Linked DNA regions of Homo sapiens. The protein of the gene in region 2 purifies or fractionates together with the protein of the main gene of each other region. This does not show direct contact. Each region holds a gene or a part of one and is shown on either strand. Other genes may lie near its edges. The genes, in order: DLD, PDHA1, RPA3 and VDAC1.

Evidence for each region.
Region 1: the proteins of PDHA1 (region 2) and DLD purify together in Homo sapiens (affinity purification with mass spectrometry; 6 studies listed by BioGRID and IntAct, with this or other methods). This does not show direct contact.
Region 3: the proteins of PDHA1 (region 2) and RPA3 purify together in Homo sapiens (affinity purification with mass spectrometry; 2 studies listed by BioGRID, with this or other methods). This does not show direct contact.
Region 4: the proteins of PDHA1 (region 2) and VDAC1 purify together in Homo sapiens (affinity purification with mass spectrometry; 2 studies listed by BioGRID, with this or other methods). This does not show direct contact.

Annotation. Positions count from the first base shown.
Region 1 is NC_000007.14:107,915,183-107,921,725, reverse strand, and holds the end of DLD (dihydrolipoyl dehydrogenase, mitochondrial isoform 1 precursor), read right to left. Parts: intron 6,221-6,543; coding exon 6,030-6,220; intron 4,933-6,029; coding exon 4,762-4,932; intron 4,454-4,761; coding exon 4,264-4,453; intron 3,803-4,263; coding exon 3,665-3,802; intron 2,717-3,664; coding exon 2,627-2,716; intron 2,533-2,626; coding exon 2,467-2,532; 3' UTR 528-2,466; downstream 1-527. UniProt on the Homo sapiens protein: Lipoamide dehydrogenase is a component of the glycine cleavage system as well as an E3 component of three alpha-ketoacid dehydrogenase complexes (pyruvate-, alpha-ketoglutarate-, and branched-chain amino acid-dehydrogenase complex).
Region 2 is NC_000023.11:19,346,910-19,353,936, forward strand, and holds part of PDHA1 (pyruvate dehydrogenase E1 component subunit alpha, somatic form, mitochondrial isoform 1 precursor), read left to right. Parts: intron 1-2,402; coding exon 2,403-2,462; intron 2,463-3,027; coding exon 3,028-3,201; intron 3,202-4,350; coding exon of another isoform or gene 4,351-4,371; coding exon 4,372-4,498; intron 4,499-6,172; coding exon 6,173-6,264; intron 6,265-7,027. UniProt on the Homo sapiens protein: The pyruvate dehydrogenase complex catalyzes the overall conversion of pyruvate to acetyl-CoA and CO(2), and thereby links the glycolytic pathway to the tricarboxylic cycle.
Region 3 is NC_000007.14:7,638,582-7,645,608, reverse strand, and holds part of RPA3 (replication protein A 14 kDa subunit), read left to right. Parts: intron 1-4,433; 5' UTR 4,434-5,190; coding exon 5,191-5,289; intron 5,290-6,464; coding exon 6,465-6,539; intron 6,540-7,027. UniProt on the Homo sapiens protein: As part of the heterotrimeric replication protein A complex (RPA/RP-A), binds and stabilizes single-stranded DNA intermediates that form during DNA replication or upon DNA stress.
Region 4 is NC_000005.10:133,987,973-133,994,999, forward strand, and holds part of VDAC1 (non-selective voltage-gated ion channel VDAC1), read right to left. Parts: intron 5,047-7,027; 5' UTR 5,041-5,046; coding exon 4,974-5,040; intron 4,384-4,973; coding exon 4,334-4,383; intron 3,183-4,333; coding exon 3,030-3,182; intron 2,936-3,029; coding exon 2,883-2,935; intron 1,272-2,882; coding exon of another isoform or gene 1,163-1,271; exon of another isoform or gene 1-1,162. UniProt on the Homo sapiens protein: Non-selective voltage-gated ion channel that mediates the transport of anions and cations through the mitochondrion outer membrane and plasma membrane.

The DNA.
Region 1 (6,543 bases), on a different chromosome or scaffold from region 2:
TTAAAAAAAAAAATCCCAATAACTAGCAAAAATGGTCATACCCCATCATCTACTAGAGCAATTATGTAGTATTTTACTTAGAACAGTAGAAACACTCTCCATTCCTTTTCAGCTAAACAACTAAAGATCTCACTTTGAAATTACTTTTTTTTTTTTTTTGAGACGGAGTTTCGCTCTGTCGCCAGGCTAGAATGCAGTGGCATGATCTCAGCTCACCGCCTCCTGGGTTCAAGTGATTCTGCCTCAGCCTCCTGAGTAGTTGGGATTACAGGGGCCTGCCACCACACCTGGCTAATTTTTATATTTTTAGTAGAGATGGGGTTTTACCACATTGGTCAGGTTGGTCTCAAACTCCTGACCGCAGGTGATCTGCCCGCCCCGGCCTCCCAAAGTGCTGGGATTACAGGAGTGAGCCACCGCTCCCAGCCAGTTGAAATTACTAATTTTAATCAGTTCAATGAAGTGGACAATTAATTTCACTCTTCACAAGCCACAAAAATATTGACAGCTTAGTAGATAACAGTAAGTGAACACTTAAAACTTGTTTTATTCCTAGGACTTTATTCCCCATACAGATAAATTTGCATTCTCATACTGAATGTAAACACTTAAAGATGGATTTAACTCTACAGCTAGAATTCCATATTAAATTATATTTCACTATTCCCTAACTAAAAACTTTTTTTTCCCTGAGTAAGGGATATGTTGAGATTTACATAAACAGCACTTCACATGATACCGGGATTTCAAATTTTTAAAAAGATGCAGAGTTCACTTCCAATAATGGCAAAGTAGCACACAGATATCAGACCAACCCTCCTGCTGATAGCAACTGCAAACTCTGAACAAATATATTTTAGAAAAAACTAAAGGCACTGGAAACAACTATAAACAAGTGGAAAGTAGAGGGAAGTTGGCACTTAAAAAGTGAACAGCACTGGCTCAATGTCTCATTTTTAACGGGTTCTCACTTGAGGGGGAAACAAAAGCCAAGTTTTATTGGTTAAGGATCAGAAGGCAGAATATGGGGCAACCACAACAGCTGGAACATAAAGGGGAAACCCCCAAAAAACAGGAGGCACAGAAGGGGCAGACTTCCTTCTGCCCAAACTCTGGTTGACCCCTGAACTACACACTTGCATGGGAAAGACTTCCAGCAGCATAGCTAAAGCTAAAACAACTGAGAAGAGATTTCAGCTGCTGCCACCTACAAACAAGACAGAGTGTGGAGTTGGTGTTCAGCCAAGTTAACTGCCTCCTAAGACAACAATCAATTTTCTTTAGAAGTATGTAACAGAATCCAGGGTCATTATGTCACTCATGAGCATGAGACAATCTATGCTATCTATACCAAATTTCAGAACTACTTAATCTGAATTATTCTTAAATTTAGTTACAATATGCAAAAGCCTACTTAGCATTTAGTACTTTGTTACTTAAGTTTCCTCAGGACATGGCCATTTTAAACACCACACATCCAATTTTACAACACTCTTTAAATAAACAGTCATTAACCCAGCCAAGGAAAACACAGATTAAAGACTCCCTTATGTTGTACTTCTCCAAAAGTATATATTAAACATTTAGTAGGTGTATCTAAAATAGATGAAAGGATGATGACCTTTAAAATGCCTTAATATTGTCCTATAACATGAAAATAAAGATACATTCAGGCCTAGAAAAGAAATTAGAATATACACTAGAAGTAGTCATAAAAAAAACTATGACCATCTCAACACGTACTCATGATAACCAGTAAATGAATATTTAAGACGTTTATTTCAGTATCTTCATTCCCCACTGTAATACATTTGAATGCCCACGTATTTGAGTTCCGTAAATAGACTCTCTTAATTTGGGTAACTATATAATTACCCTTCAGAGTTGCAGACAACAATGGAAGCTTTAAAACCTCTTCAACACAAATGCTACCCCTAAAATGAAAGAATTTAGAGGTTAAATAAAACAAGTGAGAGACCGTTTACTTACATCAGTTCGGTTTATAGACATTTGAATCATATCTGAATGACTGACTTGTTTCCAATGTGAAAACCAAATTAAAAATAACTTGATCACTGTGCTTCAAACACAACTGTTCACATATCAAATTCTAGCTCCAGCCATGTAAAATTCAACTTTTCTGTATCAGAGAAAAAAGCTATTTAAATTCAGGGGCATTGAATCTTTCATGAACAGCATGAAAATATGAGTTGACGGAGATATTCCAGGATGCTACAATAAGTAGCTTTTTGTCTTACACATTAGTGCACTGAAACAAAATACTAAATTTATGTAAAATATAGATATAAGAGTATTCCATTTTGTCCAAACCTATTAAATACCTTCCAAAAGTTTCATAATTCAGTCCTAGAAATTCTTGGAGCTGTGAGAATATCCTGTTCAGGAATGTGACTTCTACAAAAGCTCCCAGGAAATTTCAGAAAAAAATATATATAATCTTCTAATTCAAAAGTTGATTGATTTGCCAAATGACGCAGCAAGATTTGCTTCTCTAAAAGCTTCTGATAAGGTCTGCAAGGGAAGAAATTTAAAATTAAAATCCAAATATTTGTGGGTCAGAAGAAAATTTAGGCAACCATCAATTCTATATGTTGTTAATAATTACCGGATGTGCATGACAGACTCTAGCTATATCTTCACAGGATGCTCCATATTCCAAAGCAAGAGCAGCTTCATTTACCATTTCTCCAGCACCCTTTAAAATAACAAGCCAAGTAAATTTGCTTCCAAGGCAAAAACTACATGCTAATAGGATAGCAATTGTTGAGGGGAAGCTTTTAGATCTTAAAAACGCCTTAAATCTGTTTCTTTATCAGTTGAAGAAAAGTCAGGAAAAGCTTAATAGAAAAGGTGACACAGAAGAGCTTGGGCTCTGGAGCCAAAGGGCCTTCAATTCATATCTACCACTTACTACCTTAACCATTCATTGGTTCTTTGTGCTTCATTCAGTTTCTTCACCTCAAAAATAACAGCACCTATTTCAAAAAGCTGATGTAAAAATAACAAAATGTATACTAAAGTGACACAGCACTCAAATATTCTATTCTCATTATTGTTACATCAGATACAAGAGATATCTACAAGAAAGATACATACTTTAGGCTCAGTGGTAGGAAAGGCTTCCCTTAGGAGGTAACATTTGAGCTGAGACCTGAATAATAAGGAGCCAGCCATTCAAAGATCTGGAGGCAGAACAGTCTAAGCAGAGGGTATCTTAAGCACAAAGGCCCTAAAATGCAAATATTTGGTCTGTTGTGAAAATGAGAGAAGGCCCATGTGACATGGCATTAATGAGTAAAAGAGAGCAGAAAAAGAAGAGGTCAGAGAAGTAGGCACAAACAGATTCAGTGAGGCCTTGGATGTAACAATCTGAAGTTGAAAAGCACCACTGGAGGATTTTAAGGGGCATAATCTGGTGTATGTTTTAAAGAGAGAATCTTGGCTGCAGGACAAAGTAGATGATACAGTGGGCAAGACTGTGAGAGTGCTGCTGGTATCCTTCTAGAAATGATGCACAGAGAGCCATATTCAAAGTTTTGCTGGAAATGAGCAACCTCAGACTAACACCAGGTGGTTTATAATTAATAAACAGCAATGCTTTCTAGAAATCTTAATGGGATTTCTCTGGTTTTACAATACTCACTGGTCCAAGAATATGTGCTCCCAGTACTCTGTCTGTCGATTTCTGCCCAAGGATCTTCACCATGCCATCTGTGTCAGCATTTGTCTTAGCTCTGCTGTTAGCAGCAAATGGGAATTTCCCAACTTTGTACTCAATACCCTGTGACAGTCAGAAAAAAAGAATCTACGTAACTGCCAGAAAAGTTCTTTCCAATTTGTAAAATCATCTACCATTTGTTCAGAAAATAAATCCCAAGAAGGGAATTGTTCGCAAAGCACATAGAAGGAAAGGAAAGACCAGAAGACTGGTTAATGAACTATATCTCAGGCACGAATACAAGCAAATACAAATGTCTGTCCATCTGGTTATATTTCAAAGCCAAATATAAAAGATCTGGAATTACTAGTTTTTTAATATAGGCAACTTCTCTTCCTCTCAATTACTGCTGATAAATCTGTGAATGATCTCTTTATAATGCTAACAAGGGAAAAATATATAAGCTAAACAATATTTCACAGCTGTTAAATATATTAGCATAATGATAAAATGCTGTTTCTCAACCACCAATGTCATTGGCACAACTCACACATTGGCTTAAAACCACCCATGTTCAGACTTACCTCTTCTTTCAACTGCTCTTCTGATTTGCCAACCCAAGCAACTTCAGGGTGTGTGTAAATCACTGATGGCACACAATTGTAGTCAATGTGCACAGCACCACCAGCCATTCCTTCAACACAGATAATGCCTTCATCCTCTGCTTTGTGAGCCAGCATTGGACCAGCAACTACATCACCAATGGCATAGATACTACCACAGAAATCAAAAGAAACACAATGAATTTCTGAAATCACAGCTACTTACCTTCAGTTACATTATGGTAACAAAAGTTTCCAGTAAACAAGTCACCAAAAAATACATCAAATGCAGCTCTTCAAAAATCTATGAATTCAGCTTATCTTTGAGTAAAATTCAGTTATTTTTTATTTTACATTTTGTAAGTTTACTATTCTTCCCCAAAGCCAATACATATTTTAAGCATAAAAATCTTACTTTTCAAAATACTGTTTGAAATCAATTTTAAAATTACTGAAAATGCAGACAATTATCCAACTTACTTTGGAATTTTAGTTTGAAATCTGGTATTGACTGGAATTCTACCTCTGGGATCTAGTTCAATTCCCAGCTCTTCTAGTCCCAAATTCTTAGTAAAGGGTCGTCGGCCAATGCAAACCAAGAGTACATCACAAGTGATAACTTCAGCTTTACCACCAGAAGCAGCTTCAATACTAGATAACAAACAGTGTATAAATGTTAAATACACACCTACATAAATTGATAGGCTTAGAAATTTAAGGCCAGCAATTTCTCAAGTGTTGATGACATTTTCATTTTTGTTTTGTTTTGTTTTTGAGACAGAGTCTTGCTCTGTCGCCAGACTGGAGTACAGTGGTGCAATCTCGGCTCACTGCAACCTCCACCTCCCAGGTTCCAGAGATTCTCCTGCCTCAGCCTCCCTAGTAGCTGGGACTACAGGCACGCGCCACCACGCCCAGCTAATTTTTGTATTTTTAGTAGAGACGGGGTTTCACCATGTTGCCAGGCTGGTCTTGATCTCTTGACTTCATGATCTGCCCATCTCAGCCTCCCAAAATGCTGGGATTACAGGTGTGAGCCACCATGCCCAGCCGGCACTGATGACATTTTTAACAATATAAGTTTATTTGAATATAAACATAAGAGTCAGACAATGAAAGAGATCTATCATTAAAATCTAGAGGTCTGTTATTAAAATCTCACAAAAACCACAGTATAATAAAACAGCAGTTAAGAATACAGGTCTTTGAGTCACAGAAATCCAAATTCAACTACTGACTGCCACCCACTAGCTGTGTGACAAGTTAGTCATTAATTAGTCAATGAATTCAGCTTCTTATCTTTGAGTAAAAGTCATTAAACTATTTAAATACTATTAACTATTTAATTTAAATATTTATTTAAAAACTAATTCAATAAGTTAAATGCCATTAAAGTATTTAATCAGTAGAGTACCAGACATATAGTAAGCAATCTTTTATTATTGATTTCCCCATGTATCTGCCTAAAAATATTGATTCAATTTTACTTATTATTGGGAATTTAAATTTTTCTGAATGTACTATAAGAAGGCACAACAATGAGAATATTGGATTCTCTTTCTAGCATTAACCTAATCATAAATTTCAATGTGCTAATGCAATAATTTGATAAGCAACTGAGTTATATTAAGTAATAAAATGACCTTAAGTTAGAAAAAACCCTATATTTGCTAAACTGATTTTGAAACTTGAGTGTTTTGCTTAAAGAGACAGGGATGATACATCAAAAACAAATGATGTATACTTACGAAACATCAATTTTTCCATCTGACTTCTTGGTAGCACCAGTAACCTTTGTATTCAATTTAAATTTAAACCCCTGTTTTTGAAGGATGCGTTGAAAGTTTTTAGATATCTCCATATCAATTCCAACTCCACCTACATGACCTAAAAATTCAACTGCTGTCACATCTGCACCAAGTCTTTGCCAAACTGAACCCTGCAAATAAATTAAAAAAACCCAATAATCATAAAAGTTTCTATAGCAAATGTTTACGAAATCATCTTAATAATTTATTGTAAAACATTTTCTTCTTTCGCTAGTATGTTCCTATGAGAAGCTCCGAGGTTTAAAATTGACCCTGTGTTAAATATGTATAACTTCATACATTTATTAACTTACTCATTCAACATTTGTTGAACATCTACTACATGGTAGGCAATATTTTAGCTTCTAGGCATACATTAGTAAACAAAGCAAAAATCTCTGTTCTCAGGGATCTTATATTCTGGCAGGGGACATAGACAAATATGTAAAATTCA
Region 2 (7,027 bases):
GTTTTTCCTCTTTCACATGAATGGTTCCTATGTATTTAGGAAGTTAAAGTTTTACTTTTTTTTAATTAATTTTTTTTTTTAGGCTGGAATGCAGTGGCACAGTCATAGCTCACTGTAGCCTCAGGTGTGTGCCACCATACCTGACTAATTTTTTAATATTTATTTTTGTAGAGATGAGAGTCTCATGTTGCCCAGGCTGGCTTTGAACTCCTGGCTTCAAGTGGTCCTCCCACCCTGGCCTCCCAAAGTGCTGGGGATTATAGGTGTGAGCCATCATGCCCGGCCTAGTTTTTATTTTTTAAAATTTGAGTGGGTTGTTCGTGGTCTCTGTCAGAGAGGAATCCCATTTAACAGAGAATCTTTTTATGGCTCTCCAGAGAAAATGAATGGTAAACTTATCTTTTCAACAAGCTCTCACTCAGAAATGATACACACACACTTCTGATAGGACTTTTAGCTTCTTTAACTTTGTTCCTTTCACTCATATCAGTGGTTCTTATTTTTGAGATACACAGTAATGAAGCCATGGGAGAAAGTATCTAAGTAGCTTTCTGGCAGTCCTAATCTTTGCAGGCGCAAGATTACAGGCGCATGCCACAGCACTGGGCCCCTTCTTGCTCTTTATTGTATAGCATTATCCTGCCTCATTGTTTCAACTCTAGGATTGAGAAAGAAGTTACCTTTTCTCTGTTACTGTCGCCTGGCTGGTTTGGACTCCTGCCTTCCAAAAACTGCAGTTTCTGTAGTTGTATTTGGAAATTTATTTCACAATACAATAAATTTCTGGCCCCACAAAATATTTATTAACTGCCAAGAATAACACATCTGTTTGATTGCTAAATATAACCATTGATTTGCTGTTTCACCTTCTCTCAGCTTTACTTCTTCCCAAATTCCTAAATTTCCTTCACTTTTTCTGAGATACATTAGTGGACTGTCTCTGCCTGTAAGTTAACTGAAACACTGATTCCTAGTATTTCAGTTGTTTTCCTCCAGCACTGTCATTGTCTGTGTTTGTTGGCTTTGTCCAATAATGGTCTATTGAGGGGTGAAGATATACGTAATTAGCTTTCTGCCTATTGGCTTGTACACTCCAGGGTATACTTGGCAGATCAGTCTTAACTCTTCTCACCAAGATCAGTCCAGTGCTGGATTAGGTAAGGTATGAACACATCAGATGTGCTTTTTATGGAGAAATCATGTTGGTTTACACGTCAGTGTGTGAGAATGTGGCAGAAGGGAGCTAAAATAGTATGATAATACTACTGGATAAATTTTGTGGTCTAACCTAAACCTTAGCCATTACATAGAATACTTTTGCTGTGAGCAGGTTTGCTCAGTTGTAAAACTGGAAAGGAATCATTTCTCACCCCCCGCCTCCAAGCTTTTTACCTCCAAACAGTGACAGCCACCCAAACATCAAGAGAACAGTGTTTCAGAGAACATTTCTACTGGGGCTTCAGGAGGAGCCTGTCCAAGATTTAGGCTGTTCAAATTATAAATTATAAAACAGCTGGCTCAAGCCCATTGTGTTTAAGTCAGAGAGTGCTAAGTATCTTTTCTTTTGTCTTGTCTCCCTAAAGTATTTATCTCATACTTCAATCAATTTAAAATATTTTTTCTTACAGATCCAATTTGATAGAAGAGTCAAGTTTGCCTAGAGTGGAGATTAAATCATAGTTTTATTTGAAGTATAATTTTGGCTTGCTCAAAATGAACAGTATCTGGTTATGACTAAGAATGGCATGAAAAGGCCAGACGCAGTGGCTCATGCCTGCAATCCCAGTACTTTGGGAGGCCAAGGCAGGTGGATCACCTGAGGTCAGGAGTTGGAGACCAGCCTGGCCAACATGGTGAAACCCCATCTCTACTAAAAATATAAAAATTAGCCGGGCGTGGTGGTGGGCACCTGTAATCCCAGCTACTCGGGAGACTGAGACAGGAGAAATCACTTGAACCCGGGAAGCGGAGGTTGCAGTGAGCCGAGATCGCACCACTGCACTCCAGCCTGGGTGATAAAAGCAAAACTCCGTCTCAAAACAAACAAACAAAAGAATGGCATAAACAGACACAGCTCACAGATGATCTAGTCTCTTTAGCCACTAATTTCATTATATTCTCACTATAATTTCTTTGAAAACAAAGGATGGGTTTGTTTTTTGCCCCTCTTTGCGCTGCTTGCCTTCAGATGCGGGATAATCCTGTTTCATTGGCCAAAGCATGGATTCATTTTGGAGGCCAAGGAAGATGCAAACACAGTGCACAGGGTGGAAGAGAAGCCTATGAATATGTTGGGGCTTATTAAATTTCCATAACTTCATTCTGATAACTGATTATTATACTTTCCAAAATAGCTGACAATTAAAAAGTACTGATTTGTTTGTATATTTTTGTCTTTTAAGGCAAGCAGAGTGCTGGTAGCATCCCGTAATTTTGCAAATGATGCTACATTTGAAATTAAGGTAAGAGGTGTTTTACTTTGTTAATAATTTTTTCACAGGTACACTCTGATATACAGTTTTACCTTTAGAATAGAACATTTTGATGTTCATGCTTAGTCATCATTTTCTTCTAAATGTTCCAGGATCAGAAGTTCAGAGAAGCTTCACGAAAACTAGAATTTATTATTAGCAGCTTGCTGTTGTTCTGTGGGGGGAAGGGGGAGGAGCTAGAAAATGAAAATAAAAATAAAAGCTTATTCAAAAGTTTGGAATGTAATTCAGTGAAATATTTGAATAAGAAGAGTCTTAGTTGTTTCTTTGAAGGTTCTTTCAACCTATAACTCAGTTGGCTTCTAGGGGCTTTCAGTGAAAATCATCTTAGAAAGATTTCCTTCCCCCAAGCCCCATCTCATTGCACAGTGAGGTTTATGGATTTAAGGAACAGAGGCGATATGAAGCATTACTGATGTGCTCCTTTGCAGTTTTTCAAGTTCAATATTATTTGCAATGGAGTTAGATCTTAGAGTGGTCAACAGTGTTTGCAATGTAGTATGTGGAGGATAATAACTACCTTATTCCATTTCAGAAATGTGACCTTCACCGGCTGGAAGAAGGCCCTCCTGTCACAACAGTGCTCACCAGGGAGGATGGGCTCAAATACTACAGGATGATGCAGACTGTACGCCGAATGGAGTTGAAAGCAGATCAGCTGTATAAACAGAAAATTATTCGTGGTTTCTGTCACTTGTGTGATGGTCAGGTGAGTGGTAGGTTTGTGGTGGAACTGTGTTATTTAGGTACTGAAGTATGGCTTGTACTTATTGGGCTTTACCCTGCCATATGTATCAGAAGAGTTTGAGGCTGGTAATGTAATTTTCTTTTATTTATTTATTTTTTTGAGACAGTCTCTCTCTGTCGCCCAGGTTAGAGTACAGTGGTGATCTTGGCTCACTGCAGCCTCTGGTTAGAGTACAGTGTGATCTTGGCTCACTGCAGCCTCTGTCCACTGGGCTCAAGCAATCCTCCCACCTCAGCCTCCCGAGTATGTGGGACCACAGGTGCACACCAACACACCCAGCTAATTTTTGTATTTTTTGGAGATACGGGGTTTCACTATGTTGCCCAGGCTAGTCTCAAACTTCTGGGCTCAAGTGGTCCGCCCACCTTGGCCTCCCAAGGTGCTAGGATTACAGGCGTGAGCCACTGTGCCTGGCTGAAGCCAGTATTTTAGAATTAAAAAGTAGAATGCCAAAACCTGCTATGAAGCTTAGGCTAAAGAATTCATTCACACATAACATTGCCAGTTTTCTGTACCTGTTCTTAGAGTTTTACTATTTTAAAACTTTCTGGCACTATGATCGCCTGTACTGTATATAATTTGGAGAGAAAGGATTAGTTTGTTTTTTGTTTTGTGGGCTTAGGTCAAGGGTTAGAGTCAAATACCTACAAGGGCCAGCCAGGTAGAATAAATGAGTGAAGAAGGCTAGGTATACAAAACAGAAAATGGTGACAGGGACTCATGCTGAACTGGCACCAGCATGCCCTACCCAGAGGAATGCCATGACTTGGTTCCAGCCAGTTGGTGCCATGTGGAAATCAGGGGTAATGTTTCCTGTTTTCCATGTCTAAGAGAAGGCGGAAGTCTGGATTTTCATGTGAAATTCCCCAGTGTTTTAATGTTGACATCTGATGTAGGCTTTTCTTTTAGGTCATCATACAGGAGAAAGGAAGGAAGTGGCACATGTGTGGGTTGCCAGTTTATTGCTTCTGGTTTGGGCCTTCCACTCTGTATTTTGGTGGAAAATAGCTACTTTCTCTGGTTATTAATGACAGGTTCTACTAGCCCACATATTTCACTGTGGTCTAGGAAACGTTTTTATTTAGAAACATGTATCATATTGCCTCATAGTTTCTCCTTCCTCTAACACAGGAAGCTTGCTGTGTGGGCCTGGAGGCCGGCATCAACCCCACAGACCATCTCATCACAGCCTACCGGGCTCACGGCTTTACTTTCACCCGGGGCCTTTCCGTCCGAGAAATTCTCGCAGAGCTTACAGGTTTGCTGTTGATTTACAGAAAGGGGAAATGAGTGGATTAAGTTTTTAAATATCTGTCATTAAGATGCTATTATGAGTTAATATTTGTTAAAAATTTTAAGTTTCTTTTTTTAACCCTCTCTCCTTTGGTGCTCTGGTACTTCTGTTGTGCTCTTGAGTTAACTGACCATTTGTGAAGTTCTCTGGCCCCTCAGGTAAAAGTTTAAAACAGGTTGGTGCTATAAAATCACAGTAGGTTTGGTTATCATTCAAGCATGCCAGAAGAAGTCTAGCAGTCATAGAAAGTAAGTTCGGTTGAAGCACTCCATGGTATGCAATGTAAATTCTAGAAATCTTCTTAATATTCCCCTTTTCTTTGTCCCCCGTGACTATTTGTTTGTTTTGGTGGTTTTTTTTTTTTTTTTTTTTTGAGACTGTGTCTCACTCCGTTGTCCAGGCTGGTGTGCAGTGGTGTGATCACGGCTCACTGCAACCTCCACCTCCCGGGTTCAAGTGATTCTCATGCCTCCACCTCCTGAGTAGCTGGGACTACAGGCATGCACCACCACACCTGGCTAATTTTTGTATTTTTAGTAGAGATGGGGTTTCAACATGTTGGCCAGGCTGGTCTCCAACTCCTGACCTCAGGTGATCCACCTGCCTTGGCCTCCCAAAGTGTGCTGGGGTTACAGGCGTGAGCCACCGCACCTGGCCTGTTTTGTTTTTTTGAGACAGAGTCTCGCTTTGTTGCCCAGGCTGGAGTGCAGTGGCCTGCCTCAGCCTCCCAAAATGCTAGGATTACAGGCGTGAGCCACTGTGCCCGGTCCTCCTCCTCCTCCTTTTTTTTTTTTTTTTTTGAGACAGAGTTTCACTCTTTCACCCAGGCTGGAGTGGCTGGAGTGAAGTGGTATGATTTTGGCTCACTGCAGCCTCCGCCCCCCGGGTTCAAGCAATTCTCCTGCCTCAGCCTCCTGAGTAGCTAGGATTATAGGTGCCCAACCACCACACCTGGCTAATTTCTGTATTTTTAGTAGAGACCAGGTTTCACCATGTTGGCCAGGCTGGTCTTGAACTCTTGACCTCAGGTGATCCACCCTCTTCGGCCTCCCAAAATGTTAGGATTACAGGCGTGAGCCGCCGTGCCCGGCCCTCCTTGACTCTTGAACTATGGTTGTCCCTCTATATATCCAGGGGATTGGTTCTAGGACCCTCGAGTATACAAAAATCCTCAAATACTCAAGTCCCAAAGTCAGCCTTCCATATCTTCGGGTTTGCATCCTGAGAATATTCTATTTTCAATACATGTGTGGCTGAAAAAAAATCTGTGTATAAGTGTACCTGTGCAGTTCAAACCCTGTTCAAGGATTGAATATATTTAGTGTACTAGTATAGGAGAGGTCCTAAGATGTTTGTAACTGGCCAGAAAACCCAGAAAAGTCCAGGGTATCATCTGGATGGAACATCTGAAGGAAACTAAGTGACTAGAGAGTAGGAAAAGCTGGAAAGGTTGAAGCACATGGAACTAGTGAAAGGACAAGGAGAAACATGTGTTTGCCTGGAGGGACAGGTACTTAGACGACTGAACTGGCCTCTGTGTTCTAATGGTTGAGCCTCAGAGTACATATTTGGGGTGCGGTTTGGTTTGCTTTGTAGAGTTGGTTTGTTCTGCACATGTGTATGTTCTGCCATTTCCAGGACGAAAAGGAGGTTGTGCTAAAGGGAAAGGAGGATCGATGCACATGTATGCCAAGAACTTCTACGGGGGCAATGGCATCGTGGGAGCGCAGGTAGTCAAGGACGAGGATTGTGTGCTGCTTTAGATTTGGCCCTGGACTTTGTCTTCAAAAACTTTCACAGCCCCAGACAACTTTTCCTGAAGTAGTACAGCCATGTGCTGCACAGTGACGCTTTGGTCAATGTCGCATATATGATGTTGGACCCATAAGATTATAATGGAGCTGAAAAATTCCTGTCGCCTAGTGATGTTGTAGTGGCACAACACATTACCTTTTCTACGTTTAGGTACACAAATATTTTGCCTACAGGATTCAGTAGAGTCACATGCTGTGCAGGGTTGTAGCCTAGGAGCAGTAGGCTCTACTATACAGCCTAGGTGTGCAGTGGGCTGTACCATCTAGGTTCGTGCATTACAGTATGGTGTTCACATGACAAAATCGCCTAGTGATGCAATTCTGAGAATATATCCCTGTTGTTAAGTGACGCGTGACTATTTTGGGGGCTTGGTTTGCTTTTAAAGACCTAGTGCTTCATATCCTACCGTTTGAGAGATGAGTAGATTTGGATGGTGATTTATAATGTTTCCTTTTAGGTGTCTGCTGTTTTATAAGTAAGCAGGAACCTCTAGCAGTGGAGCCATACCTTCCCCTTCCTATTTATATTTCAGTACATTAATTGCTTTATCTTGTCAACTTCATTTTGGGGTCCTTGTTCTCATCAGTTAGTGAATGATGAAGAATTAACAGCACAAAATTATATCCGGACTGTTTCTTTTCCTTTCTAATATATTAAGATTCTATTATGTGTTGTTTT
Region 3 (7,027 bases), on a different chromosome or scaffold from region 2:
CCTTAATCTAATAAACAGAAATTCAAGTTGGGAAGGACTTCGGGGAATACTCCTTAAAGGAAGCTGAATGCGGGTCCACTTCTCTGCCACATAGAACGTGGATTTACTTGATAGCTGAAGCTCCATCACTTACCTGGCCTATGAGATAACCATAAATATGGAACTAGATATTGAATGTAGAACTACAGAAAGACAGAAAGAACCTGGGGCCCTGAGTCTTAGTGCACTACCACATAAGTACTAAGTTGCACAGCTGTGGACTTCTTTCACATGTGAGAATAAGCGTTTGTGCATTAAAGATACTTTTGTTTATGCAGCTAAACCCCATCTTGACTTAAACACTATTTCTATTCAAAATGGTACTGAAGGCTCTATCCTAGGCAAAAGGTAAGAAAGATAAATAAAATATGTAAGAATTCTTAAGAAACAAAACTATAATTATTCAAATATGAATAGAAAATTCCAAAAAAAACTGATAGAAAATTCTTAAAATGGCATTTCTATATACCAAAACAATCAGTTAAAATCTTTAATTTAAAAAATGATACCATTCATAATAGCAACAAAAACAAGGTATCTAGGAATAAATCTAAGCTAAAAGTCAAAACTTTTATGTAGAAAAGTATGAGACCTTTTGGAAAGATTTTAAGAGGACCAAAATGGCTCAAGGATAGTAAGAGTTGACATTCAGGTGTTACTTTTCCTGAAATACATCCAAGGATACAGTGCAATTTTGATCAAAATTCCAACACAGTTTTTCCTGGAAATTCATAAGCTACATTCTATACAGAAGAGCAAAGAGACAAAAATAACCAAGACATTCCCGAGAACACAGCCCCAGACATCAAAAGTTATGATAAGCTACACTATTAAAGAAAATAGGTAGTGGTTCAGGGATAGAAAAATAGATCCATAGAATAGAATTGACTCCACACATATCTGTAAACTTAAGGTGACAAGTGAAGGTGGCAAAAAGGTGATACAGTCAAATCACATTAGGACAACTGAAATTAAAACAAAACAGAGATTGGAGACTTATCTGACAACATACATGAAGAGTGAATTCTAGATGACGGACTATTAAATATGAAAGGCAAAACTCTAAACATTTTAGGAAAAATAGAATACCTTTAAGAGTACGATGTATCAAAGAATTCATAAATGAGATTTTAATGGACTTTTCTCCTACATTAAACTTAAGGGGGAAAATGTTTAACTATATTAAAAGAGGTCTTCCTAATAAAAAAAAAAAAAGGATGGAATGAAGGAAGGAAACGGAAAGATAGGCCAAAAACAGACAACACTTGTACCATTACAATATCTCACTAATAAAAAGCTCTTAAAAGTCAGTAAGAAAAAGAAAAATCAAGGAAAAAAAGATAAACATAAATAACCAATAAAAATCTGAAAAAATGTTCAAACTTTTCAGTAATCAGGGAGTGCAAATTAGGGTCACGACAAAAAAACACTTCATATCCATCAAATTGGGGGAAAAAACTCCAAGAGTTGCCAAGAATATACAATAACTGTAAACTGTCTTATACTCCAGGTAAGAGAGTAAACTGGTACCACCATTTGGGGAAATCATTTTTTTACTAGTGGCAGAGATCCAAGTTACCCCAAGTTACCGGTGGCCTATCCTCACGGGTCAGTAGCAACTTCAGTCCTTGCCTCCTCAGACGAAAAAATTTGACTGAGGGGCATAAAGCAGAAACAGAGACCCAGGCAAGTTCCAGAGCAGGAATGGAAGTTTACTTTAAAAGGCCTTAAAACAGGAAGAAAGGAAGGTGTGCTTGTTAGAGACCCAAGCGGGAATGTGAAGGTTAAAGAGAGTAGGTCAAGTGTCCGATTTAACCGTTGATCCTTTTTTTTTCGTTTGTTTGTTTTTTTTTTTTTTGAGAGGGAGTCTCGCTCTGTGGCCCAGGTTGGAGTGAAGTGGCGCGATCTCGGCTCACTGCAAGCTCCGCCTCTCGGGTTCACGCCATTCTCCTGCCTCAGCCTCCCGAGTAGCTGGGACTACAGGCCCCCGCCATCGCGCCTGGATACTTTTTTGTATATTTAGTAGAGACAGGGTTTCACCATGTTGACCAGGGTGGTCTTGAACTTCTGATCTGAGGTGATCCACCCGCTTCAGCCTCCCAAAGTGCTGGGATTACAGGCGTGAGCCACCGCGCCCGGCCCTGATCCTAGGACTTTTACAAGCTTGTCTATTTCCCATGATTCTTTCCTTAGGATAGGCTGCCGGCAGGCACAGAGCCCTCCTTAGCCTTGGGAAGTGTTTTTAGGGAGTTACATGCACGCCCATCTGAGGCTTCCTTCCTTTTTCCGGTGGAGTGTACCTGGAAGATCATACTTTACCATTTTTGTCTCTTAATATGCATGCCCAGGAAGCTGTTTCTCCCTCGGGTCTACATTCAATTAACATTTTGATAACAGGTGTGGACCATCAGGAAATGGCCTCTCCCTGGCGCTGCAGAATTATCATTTTTAGAGAAGCAAATTCGGTAATTGCCAAACCATCCCCCAACATTTCTAGTGGGTTGGGGGAGAGCCCACTACTGTCCCACTCATGCCTACCTGTAACAGAAAAAAAAATATGATCTACGTACATTCGTCAACATAGATGAATCTCAAAAACAAACAAAAGAAGTCAGAAGATACATACGTTTCTGTTTATATAAAGGTCAAAGACTGGCAATATTAAACAACATACCATTTAGCAACGCCTGCATGTGTGATAAAACCACCTAGAAAAGCTTAGGAAGCTTAACACAAATTTCAAGATAGTGTTTACTTATGGCTGTAGCAAGGAGGGCTTCATTGGGGAAGTGCAAACTGGTAAAATTTACTGGTAACTGGTAAAGTTCCATTTCTTCAGCTGAATGACAGGCCCCATGGATTCATTTCATTTCTCTCAAAACTATGCAAATCGGCTAGCTATACTTTTTTCTGTACATCATGTATTTTATAATATTTTAAGTGACTCAAAAATACACGAAAAAGCTGTTTTAAATTATCTTCCTGCTCATCTCCCTGTTTTAAAAGAAAGCCTTTGCTTAAAAGTGGTCTTTCTAACTGCAGGTAAACAACGACATTAACATCTGGTACTCACAGGAGTGCTCTTTAAAAAAAAAAAAAATCACTATTACAGGGTACGCACCAAGGCTCACACCTGTAATTCCAGTACTTTGGGAGGGAGACGGGGGAGGGAGGGATCGCCTGAGCCCAGGAGTTTGAGATAAGCCTGGTCAACATGGCGAGGCCCCATCTGAACAAAAAAAAACAAACAACAAAAAAAAAATCTTTATTAGCTGGGTGTGGTGGTATGTGCTTATAGTCCCAGCTACTTGGCAGGCTGAGGTGAGAGGATCGCTTAAGCCTACGAGTTAAAGGCTGCAGTGAGCTATGTGCATGCTACTGCACTCCAGTCTGGGTGACAGAGAGAGATCTTGCCTCAAAAAAAAATGCTATTAAAGACATTGATGTGTGTACTCTCCCCTATATAATGCACATCAACTTGCTTTGCAAAACAATGCTAAAGTACAAAAGACTTAAAGCTGTAATATAAAATAGACTTTACTGACTTGCACCAATACAACCACAACTTTTTTATACACCACTGACACACATTCTACATCTGTTTAATGAAATCCTTTAAAGTACCGTTAGTGAGTAAAACTAAGACAAACCTATTAAGTGCTAAGGAAACACTAAGGGAGACTATCATTTAATTATCGTACATGAGATTCCAATCTTAAATTGCCACGTGAAGTCTCAAATCGGATCTTTTTTGCTTAAGGGAATTTGAACGATGACAATTCTGTAGCTTTGGGCCAATTCACAGACTCAGTTTCCACAACGTTATAATACCCAATTAAAACTTCTGTCCAATTTCCACCGTACCGTTTGAAGGTATTTTTATGTGCACTCATTCTAGAATACTCCTGGCAAGGCCGCCGGCTTCGGGTCACAAGATGAGCCAGGGACAGATTGGAGACTACCCCCAAATCTCCCAGGAATCGGTTATCTTCCAGACCTCCAGATCGCCCTCCAGAGTCTCGCAGTGTGGAGGGCAACGACAGAAAGACTGCTGAGGGGGTTTAAACTGTTGAGTCAAACATATGGCCAAAAGTCAGAGTCAACTGGGACCTTGCAAATCATTCCGCCTAACCCTTCGTTTTGCAGATGGGGAAAACACGCCTCAGAAGGGAGAACCCTAGCTCGGGGAACCCTAGCTCGGGGTCTAACAACGATTTAAGCTTGTCTCCCCTAGTACTGGCCAGTGGTTCTTCCCCGTTACCCATCCTTAAGTGCTTCTATTGGCTGCCAACACGGAGGGGTTAGCGGGGTGAAAGAACCGGCGCCTCCGCAGTGTGGCCAGGTTGGGCTAAAAAACGTCTTAGAAGTAATCGGATCAATCTCTCTTCTTACAGGTGGAGAAAGTGGAGAAAGTAGAGTGACGCAGCTAAGGGAGTAAATCGACCCTCAGCCAACAAGTGGCAAAAGCCTGAAGAAAGTGATCAAGATCACTGATGACCCCGCTGCCCATCTCCAAGGGGGCGGGTATCACAACCCCGACGCCACACCACGTATCATTCCGCAAAACTCCCGCGCCTCCCACGCAGAACTGGCAAGAGGGAAGGCGAGACAGCAGTGAACAGCTGGTACGCAGCACCCACAGCACCGCGGCAGCAGCTAGTGCCGACTCCCGCCTAGCTCTTTTGACTCTGTTCGCGGGAAGAATGGGGAAACAGTAAGGTTGCGGCGCCTCCCGCGAGACGAGGTACCTGAGGCTGGCCCCGCAGTCCCCCGCCGCACCAGCACCGGAGCTTCACACCCCACTTCCGGGGTCAAGTCACCGCCGGGAATCCTGTGATCGCAGAAAGGTAGTCTCAGGTTCCGCCCCTATCCAAGTCCCGCCTCCACTGCCTCTCGCCCTGTATCTGTCAACTTCCGGGACGCCGCGCGTCACTAAGCAGCCAATCTCCACTTCCGGACTCATCCAGCCCCTTCTCCACCCCTTTCAGAGACAGCGCGATTGCGATTTAGGTTTCCGCGCATTTAATTGGCGAAGCTGGAGCGCTAGTCTTCGCTGATTGGTGCCGAGAAATCTGCCCCATAGACACCCGCGGGGCGCACAGTTTCAGTCGTCCGTGGGTTTCCCGCCAGCCGCAGTCTTGGACCATAATCATGGTGGACATGATGGACTTGCCCAGGTCGCGCATCAACGCCGGCATGCTAGCTCAATTCATCGACAAGCCTGTCTGCTTCGTAGGGAGGCTGGAAAAGGTGTGCGGGTTCGCAATCATGGGCTCCCAAGTCCGTAGCTGGAGGGAGGGACCCCGCCTGGATAACGGGGGATGAAAAAGGACGGAAAGCCTCCGATCACTGCGCCCCCGACTCCTTTATTTTGCACAAGGAACTTTTTGGAAATTCTTTAGCCGTTGTAGCCCCATTTTGGCGCTCTTTTATGGCACGGAAACAAAGTGTTTTCAAATGCTGAGTTCTAAATTCCAGTGCCCGTCGCCTCCGTTCTAGCCGTGCTTACGTAAGGGAAATTATAAACACCACTCCCACATCTACCTTCAGATTTCTTAGTTTACTCAGACGTGACGGACGCAGACAAAACTAATCTGCTGGTTTCCTTCTCTTCTGAAATTACTTATTTTTGCAAACCTCGTTTCCTCGTTGTGATCGCTTCTCTGTAAAACATGCCTTGGTTGTCCGCTTTGGGTCCCGTAGTAACGAGTTATTTAACCCCAGTATTAAAGTGAAGTTCCCTCATTCTACAGGCGAGAAACAGGCCCAAAGTCTTGGAATCAGTGACCTGAAAAGCTGAGGAAAAGAAAACTATTATATAAAGACTTATTTAGTAGCTCATTTCATCCACACATCCTCTTCCTTAAATGAGTGTTGCTCTGACTTCCCAAGTAGGGAAACTGAGTAGGAGTGGTAGGTGGTTGACTAAAATGCTCAGAAACTCGGCAAATGGCAAAGCTGGCATTCAAACGCAATCTGACAGCGCTCTTTACAGCTGCTTCCCAGGAGTAGGACCCAGATATTCTAGCAACCAGTTCTCCTTTTACTTCATCATGCCTGTTTTTTAAAACATACCCTCCGTGGGATATGTACTGTCTAAATCATGAGTGCCAGCAGATTTCACTTTTAGGGTGGGCATCCTTTAATTTGTTATCAGAATAGGGTTGCCATATTTAGCAAATACAGAACCTACTTAACACTACAAAAAAAATCCTTGTTTATCTGAAATTCAGAAATTAACTGTGTGTTCCATGAACAGATTTGATAACATAAGATTATAATTTGATCCAATAAGTTGAATAAACTGAATGAATAAACTGTTCAAGAAACAGTTGATTTGTGCTCAACTAAGGATCAATGTACTCATCTTTAGTCAAACTTTGTTGTTGTTTTAGTGAGATTTTAATTATATGTTTCGTTTTTAGATTCATCCCACCGGAAAAATGTTTATTCTTTCAGATGGAGAAGGAAAAAATGGAACCATCGAGTTGATGGAACCCGTATGTTTAAGTGTTAATAAGTCTCTTATATATTATAGTTAATTCTTCATCTTGATTTGGTTTGTTGCCGATGTTTCTAATTTTTGCAATGGATTTAAAAAGGATGAGCTGGTAAAACGTCCCTGGCTGTAAAATTTAATTCTTGTACTATTCTCTCATTATATTTCCTTTTACATTTTTAACCAATGATTTTTTGGGCGTCATGATTTTTGAACATATCCCATAAATGTTGGATAACAATTCTCATTCCTTATGAAAGACCATAAAATCACATAAGAAAAATTTACGTTGCTTTTTTCTTCCTCAAGAGGTTTTTTGTTTCGTTTTTGTTTTTTTGTTTTGAGACAGGGTCTCACTCTGTTACCCCGGGTGGAATGCAGTGGCACCATCATGGCGCACTGCAGCCTTAGCCTCCCAAGATCAAGTTGCTCCCATGTCAGCCTCCCCAGTAGCTGGGACTACAGGCATGCTTAACCATGCCTGGCTAA
Region 4 (7,027 bases), on a different chromosome or scaffold from region 2:
ACTGAGGGACATCTTAACAAAATAATTGGCCACTCTTTTTCAAAAGTGTCAGAGTCAGAAAATATTCCAGATTAGAGAAGACTTAACAATTAGATGCAATTTAGGAACCTGAACTGGATCACAGATCAGAAAAAAGACGTCATTGTGACAACAGATTAATTAACTATATGATATCAACATTAACTTGCTGATTCTGATCATTATAGTTACGTAAACCATTAACATTAGGAGCTGGGTGAAGAACACAGGAGAACTCTGCATACTATTTTTGCCACATTTTTTTCTAAGTATAAAATTATTTTGAAATAAAAAGTAAATTAAAAAAAAAAGGGGGGCAGGTGCAGTGGCTCACGCCTGTAAACCCGGCACTTTGGGAGGCTGAGGTGGGCAGATCACCCAAGGTCAGGAGTTCAAGACCAGCCTGACCAACATGGAGAGACCCTGTCTCTATTAAAAATACAAAATTAGCTGGGTGTGGTGGTGCATTCCTGTAATCCCGGCTACTCGGGAGGCTGAGGCAGGAGAAACACATGAATCTGCCCAGCACTTTGGGAGGCCGAGGCAGGTGGATCACGAGGTCAGAAGTTCAAGACCAGCCTGGCCAATACGGTGAAACCCCCGTCTCCACTAAAAATACAAAAATTAGCCAGGCATGGTGGCCCGTGTCTGTAGTCCCAGCTACTTGGGAGGCTGAGGCAAAAGGATCACTTGAACCCGGGAGGAGGAGGTTGCAGTGAGCTGAGATCACACCACTGCACTCCAGCCTGGGCGACAGAGCAAGACTCCGTCCCCCTCAACCCAAAAAAAAAAAAAACCAAAAAACTTTCCTTTGTGTTTTATACTGCATGGCCTGGAGACCTCTGCAAAGCTCCCTAAGGTCATGGGAAGGAAATCACCTACAAATTCCAAAGTGTGCTATCCCAGGGCAGCAGGCAAAGTCCCAGGCAGCAAATTCAAGCATGTGGGCACATCCTCCAGCCTCTCATCCTATCCCAGGATCTTTCCAGATAACCGCTCCCTGATACCATGGCAGAGTTCCTGGGGGGAGAGTGCACAGCACTGCAAAAAGGCAGTGCTCTTGCAGGAGAAACTACAGCAGCGAAGAGGAATGAGAGTAAATCAGCCCCGTAACAATGGTCTCTTCAGATCATCTATAGCCAAGCTATAAGACGACATCTCCAGAGGATAGGAACCATGTGTGCCCAGTCACTTGTGTGCACTGCACACCCAGCACAGGTCTGCACTTGGTAGATCCTCCCTCTAATAAATATCTGTTGGAAAGGAAAAAAGGAAGAAAGAAAAAAAATGAATGGCAAAACTGAAAAATTCATAGTGCCATTTAACTACACACTTAAAGATGTTAAGTTTTATATGTATATCTTACCACAATTTTTTTTTTTTTTTGGAGACAGAGTCTCTCTCTGTAGCCCAGGCTGGAGTGCAGTGGTGCGATCTCAGCTCACTGCAACCTCTGTCTCCTGGGTTCAAGCGATTCTCATGCCTCAGCATCCCAAGTATCTGGGACTACAGGCACGCACCATCATGCCTGGCTAATTTTTGTATTTTTATTAGAGATGGGGTTTTGCCATGTTGCCCAGGCTGGTCTCAAACTCCTGACCTCAAGCAATCCACCCACCTCAGCCTCCCAAAGTGCTGGGATCACAGGCATGAGTCACTGCATCCGACTCTTTTTTTTTTTTTTCTTTTGAGATGGAGTTTCGCTCTTCTTGCCCAGGGTGCAGTGCAATGGCACCACCTTGGCTCACCACAACCTCTGCCTCCCAGGTTCAAGCGATTCTCCTGCCTCAGCCTCCCAAGTAGCTGGGATTACAGGCATGCGCCCACCAGGCGCAGCTAATTTTTATGTTTAGTAGAGACAGGGTTTCTCCACGTTGGTCAGGCTGGTCTCAAACTTCCGACCTCAGGTGATTTGCCTGCCTCAGCCTCCCAAAGTGTTGGGATTACAGGCGTGAGCCACCACGCCCGGCCCACAATTTTTAAAAACTGAAATTCAGTACATGCCCTTGACCCTAACATCACTATATAAAACATCTTCCCCAGGTTTGGAAGACCCACCAATATGAGTGGAAAAAAACAAGGGTGTATTCTAAAAGGGAATAATTCCTTCTAGGCACTTTGAAAAGCACCCAGGAATTGAGGCAGACTACCATGCTATCATGCCAAGTGATGGTCAAGAACTAACAAGCCTATTACATCTGTGGCCAGAAGGCCTGGGGAAAGTGCAGCCTCAGGAGCCACCTTGCAGTTACACCCACAGGGTCTCAGTGTCCCTAAGCAGCAGGAAGCTGGGAGAAGGACTTCCATGCCTGAAGAAATGAGGCTGGCAACAGTGACCAGTTAGGCCCTGCTTCCAAATGTCACCCACTCCCGTTTGGTCATAGCCACTTACATCACCAGCAGCCTAACTCACATGAAATGGCTATTACTGAACAGAAATCCTGCAACCTCCATGGCAGAAACTAGGAGAACACTAACAAAATGCAGAATCTTATTACAAAACACGGCTAAACACTGGTCTGAATCCTCTATTAGAAAGTGAGCTCCTTGGCGGGTAACAATCATGGCCTGGGCACCCTTAGATCTCCAGATGGGCACAGGGCCAAGCACAGGTGGCACTTAGAAATCGTTTGTTGGGTAAACACCAGTCCTGAATTAGGAAGTGCTCATTATAGCATAGTCTGTTAGTGCATAGATGTGGATACGACCCCTGGGACCAAATCAAAACCAGAGGACTTAAATCGCCAGGTCTCGGAGACCATATTTTAGGTGCTGTCAGCCCCCAAAACATTTTGTCACAAAGGGCTTCCACCACCTGCAACATCAGAGAACATCCTTGTGGAGAAAACAGATGAAACTCTTACCCAGTGTTAGGTGAGAAGGATGAATCGAAGGTCAGCTTCAGTCCACGTGCAAGCTGAACAGAAAAGAAATTTGCCACTAGATTTAGTCACAAGGCAGGCTGGCAGATGCGAATTAATAAATCCACATCTTTTCACAGCAGCCATTACCTGATCTTCCACAGTAATCTCGGTGCCTAGTGTATTGTCGGTATTCCATTTCTCTGTAAACGTCAGGCCGTACTCAGTCCATCTGTACTTGGTTTCCAGACTGCCCGTCACTTTGGTGGTCTCAGTGTTGGCTGAGCCTGAGCTTGTAAATTCCTTCAAAGGAGAGAGAAGAGTCACAGCCTGCACCATAGCACTCACTTGGCTTCACTTCACTCCTAAACACTATACTTGCCTTTCTGCAAGAGGCAAGACCCTGAATGTGGGGGGGCCAAGGCTAACTCTACAATTCAAATAGATATTTAAAGTACAGATGGGAGTAAAGGAGCCTGCTATGTAAAGAAATCTTATGGGGAATTTGTTGTCAGCAGACAGCTTCCTTCCTCCCTGTAACTCTTCAGTCTGGACAGGAAAGCATCTCCCTTCCATCCTGGCTCCAGGGCAGTACAGAGAAAAAGCACTGAGCTAAAGCTGACACAGCGGTAATTCAAACCCAAAACTTCTTTCTTCCAACAATTACTGCACACATAATTTCAAAGGGACTACTAAGATTACTTTAAAAACACTTATGTGGTTGAATGCAGGTGAATTTGAAAATAAGAAGCACAAGGAAAACTAAAACTGAGACCTGACCCATTCTCCTCTATTACCCGCTGCTGAACTGGGGGCCTACTGGCATGGTTCCCCTGGACCACCCATCATGCAGAAAATGGAATGAATGTGAAAACCACAAAAACTGCCAGAATAAAAAAAAAAAAGTACCTTCTTTTGGCTTTGCGGGCCAGGTCACGACAGTTATTTGTTGATCTACAACAAATTCCCACGTTCCATACAATGGTCACTATTTGGGTAATGGGTACACTAGAAGCCCAAACCTCACCATTACACAATACATCCATGTAACAAACCTGCACATGTACACCCTGAATCTAAAATCTTTTTTAAAAATAAAAATAAGCCAGGCGCAGTGGCTCATGCCTATAATTCCAGCACTTTGGGAGGCCAAGGTGGGCGGATCACCTGAAGTCGGGAGTTCAAGACCAGCCTGACCAACATGGAAAAACCCCGTCTCTATTAAAAATACAAAATTAGCCGAGCATGGTGGCGGGTGCCTGTAATCCCAGCTACTCGGTAGGCTGAGGTAGGAGAATCGCTTGAACCCAAGAAGTGGAGGTTGTGGTGAGCTGAGATCACGCCATTGTACTCCAGCCTGGGCGACAAGAGCAAAACTCCATCTCAAAAATAAATAAATAAAATAAAATAAAAATAAATAAATACTCATGTTCCATGTGGGTTGGACAACTTACCAATCCATTCTCAGATTTTGTTTTCAAATCAAGCTTTATTAAGCCAAATCCTAAAGAAAGAAGAAGACAACTGTCAATAGGTTAAATAACTAGAGAACAGCACCTCTGCCTCCCTCATGGTTGCTTCAGGATGCTTTTTTAAAAAGAAGCACACTCCTGCCACAGGGGCTGAGGGCACCCAGTCTCTGCTGCTGCTCGTGGGGGGAGCTCTCAGCTGCCATGGAACAGCAGCAGACAGAATGGGCACCCCCACCTGGGTCCCACCTGCACTCCCAGCAGGGTCTGATAAGAAGACACCTGACAGCTGGCAAAGACACAGTTACTGGGCCTCGTGGGCATGTGCCTAAGCACAGGCTAAATATAGAAGCCGCGCTCCACTGCAGCAGCTTCCACAGGGCTGCTCCACACTTGGAAAAGAAAACAAGAATACCCACTTGACAGCACCAATGCAGGAGCCTGTCCAACTGGGTGCACAACCAAAGTTGCTACAATTGCCACACAAATGAAAGCTTCTTTTTTCCCTCACGTGAAAGTTCAGAACAGCTGACCTACCCAGGTCTCCTAAACAGTTATCGGTAAAGTCTCAAACATGCCAACTCAGTCTGTGAGCTGAAAGGCACCCCCTCTCTGCAACACTCACCATAGCCCTTGGTGAAGACATCCCTGGCAGATTTGCCAAGATCGGCATACGTGGGTGGCACAGCCATCTTCTGCTATGATAAAAGAATCACCAGAATAAATGCATTGATAATTAGGGAAATTAGCTTTCCATCAATAACAATTATTAGATGTAATTAGCAACCAATAAAAATCACCTAGCACTAAGACTACCAGGTAGCTTATCCTCCCAGATGGGCCAAGAAGCCCTTGCTGTCTTGTCCTTCATTTTGTGGCCAGAGCTTGAGACACTCAATGAGTCTTTGTTGACAGATGATCAACAATTTAGACCTCTCCTCCTCAGCATCCCCAGGACTGAGCCCAGGCCCAGAACAGAGTAGGAGTCAGGAAATATTTGCTTAATGAATAAACTGTCAAAGACACATTCCCATGAGCCAGTGACTTTACTGAATTGTAGGACTGTTGCCAATAAAACATATCATCTTACAAAATGTCAGCTACTAGGACATTAAATGTACCGAATAGAAATCAGAGCTTTTCATGGGAACATCATTTTCCATGTGGCTCTGATTTCATTCATTCAACAAATATTTATGGAGTACCTACTATATGCCAGGATGGGCCCAACTTTTCACAAAACTTTTGGACTTTATGGGAACCCACTTCATATTTCTCATAGAGAATACAGTAAAACCAAACCAGTTTGGCAGCTCTTCACATGGAAAAAACCCAAATACATCCTCCAAATACATTAAACAAATATTTATTGAGCTCCAGTGTAACTTTATTTTTAAAACCAACCATCAAAGGACTACTTGGGATTGCTGCATATCACTAAGTCAATCAACAAACATTTATTAAGCACCTCGGTGTTCAAGGAAGGAGAGTAACTCAAATAGTCTTTGCCCTAAGGACCACACTGCATTCCTGGAAGGCTTTGCTTTGGCATGCTGTATATGCTGTGTACACAGGATTAATATCCTAATCTGGGACTGTACATGGTGTGCTCTGCCCAGGAGGAGAGGGGGTCATGCATGAGAAAGCCTCATCTCCTGCACCTTCTCCATCCCCAGAATCATTAGTCTCAACCAGAAGGACCATTCCATTCGTTTTAAAATACAGTATACCTAAATTATCAAAATTCATCTGCATATATACCATCTGAAGTTACATGTATATATATTCACACAAATAAACACATATATGACATGCTCCTGGCATGTCATATGACATGATATGCTTCCATATCATCAATGGAAGTTGCATTCTTGGCCAAAGCTTTAACTTCAAAGGCATTGCAGGAGGCCACAGACTCACTGAGTATGTTGTAAAAGAAACAGTATAAACTTCTACAATTTTAAATTGTGAAGTTGTGATCCAGGTCCTACTTTACTTTTTCCAGATGCTTTGTTAATTTTATCCCAGCTCACTTTTGTGTCAGAGCACAGACAGAAGAGCAGCGAGCTGTTTACTCTGTCCTATTTTTGTCGCTGCTGTGTTATTTCTTGCACATGATCAGGCTGAAACCATGGACAGGTCAGCCCACATTAGTATCAGGGTAGAGAGATGAGGGGGGAAGATCCATTTTACACTGCCCGCCACTGGCTCTTTCCAGTCTGGGGGCTCCCCTCTCCCCACTTGTTCCTCCCTCCCAAACTAACCCTGTAGGTGCATCCCCCCGGGATAGACCAGGAAACCACCCACCAGAACCTCAAGAAATACCCTTTACCTGACACCTTCCTAGGAGAACAACTCTGGATTGAAAGCTGAGGCAATGTAACCCCAGGCAGACACAGAACATAACAGTAACGGGCCCAGAACATTCTCCACCCGACAGGGTTAACAAACCATCAGTGAACCAAGTACCCCTCTTCAGTGCTATGCCTCCCAGGGGGGCCACAAACTCAGCCGGGGTGGGGGCTGGGGAAGCAGAAGGAGAAGCAGTCCAGTGGTAATATCTGTGGGTCACCTAAGACCTCCCTGGACCTTAGGAGCCAGAGCCTTCCCCACGACTCTCCCCTGACCCCACAGAAGAGACGCCTCCCAGACACAGCAGCCTTCACATCTGGACTGGTC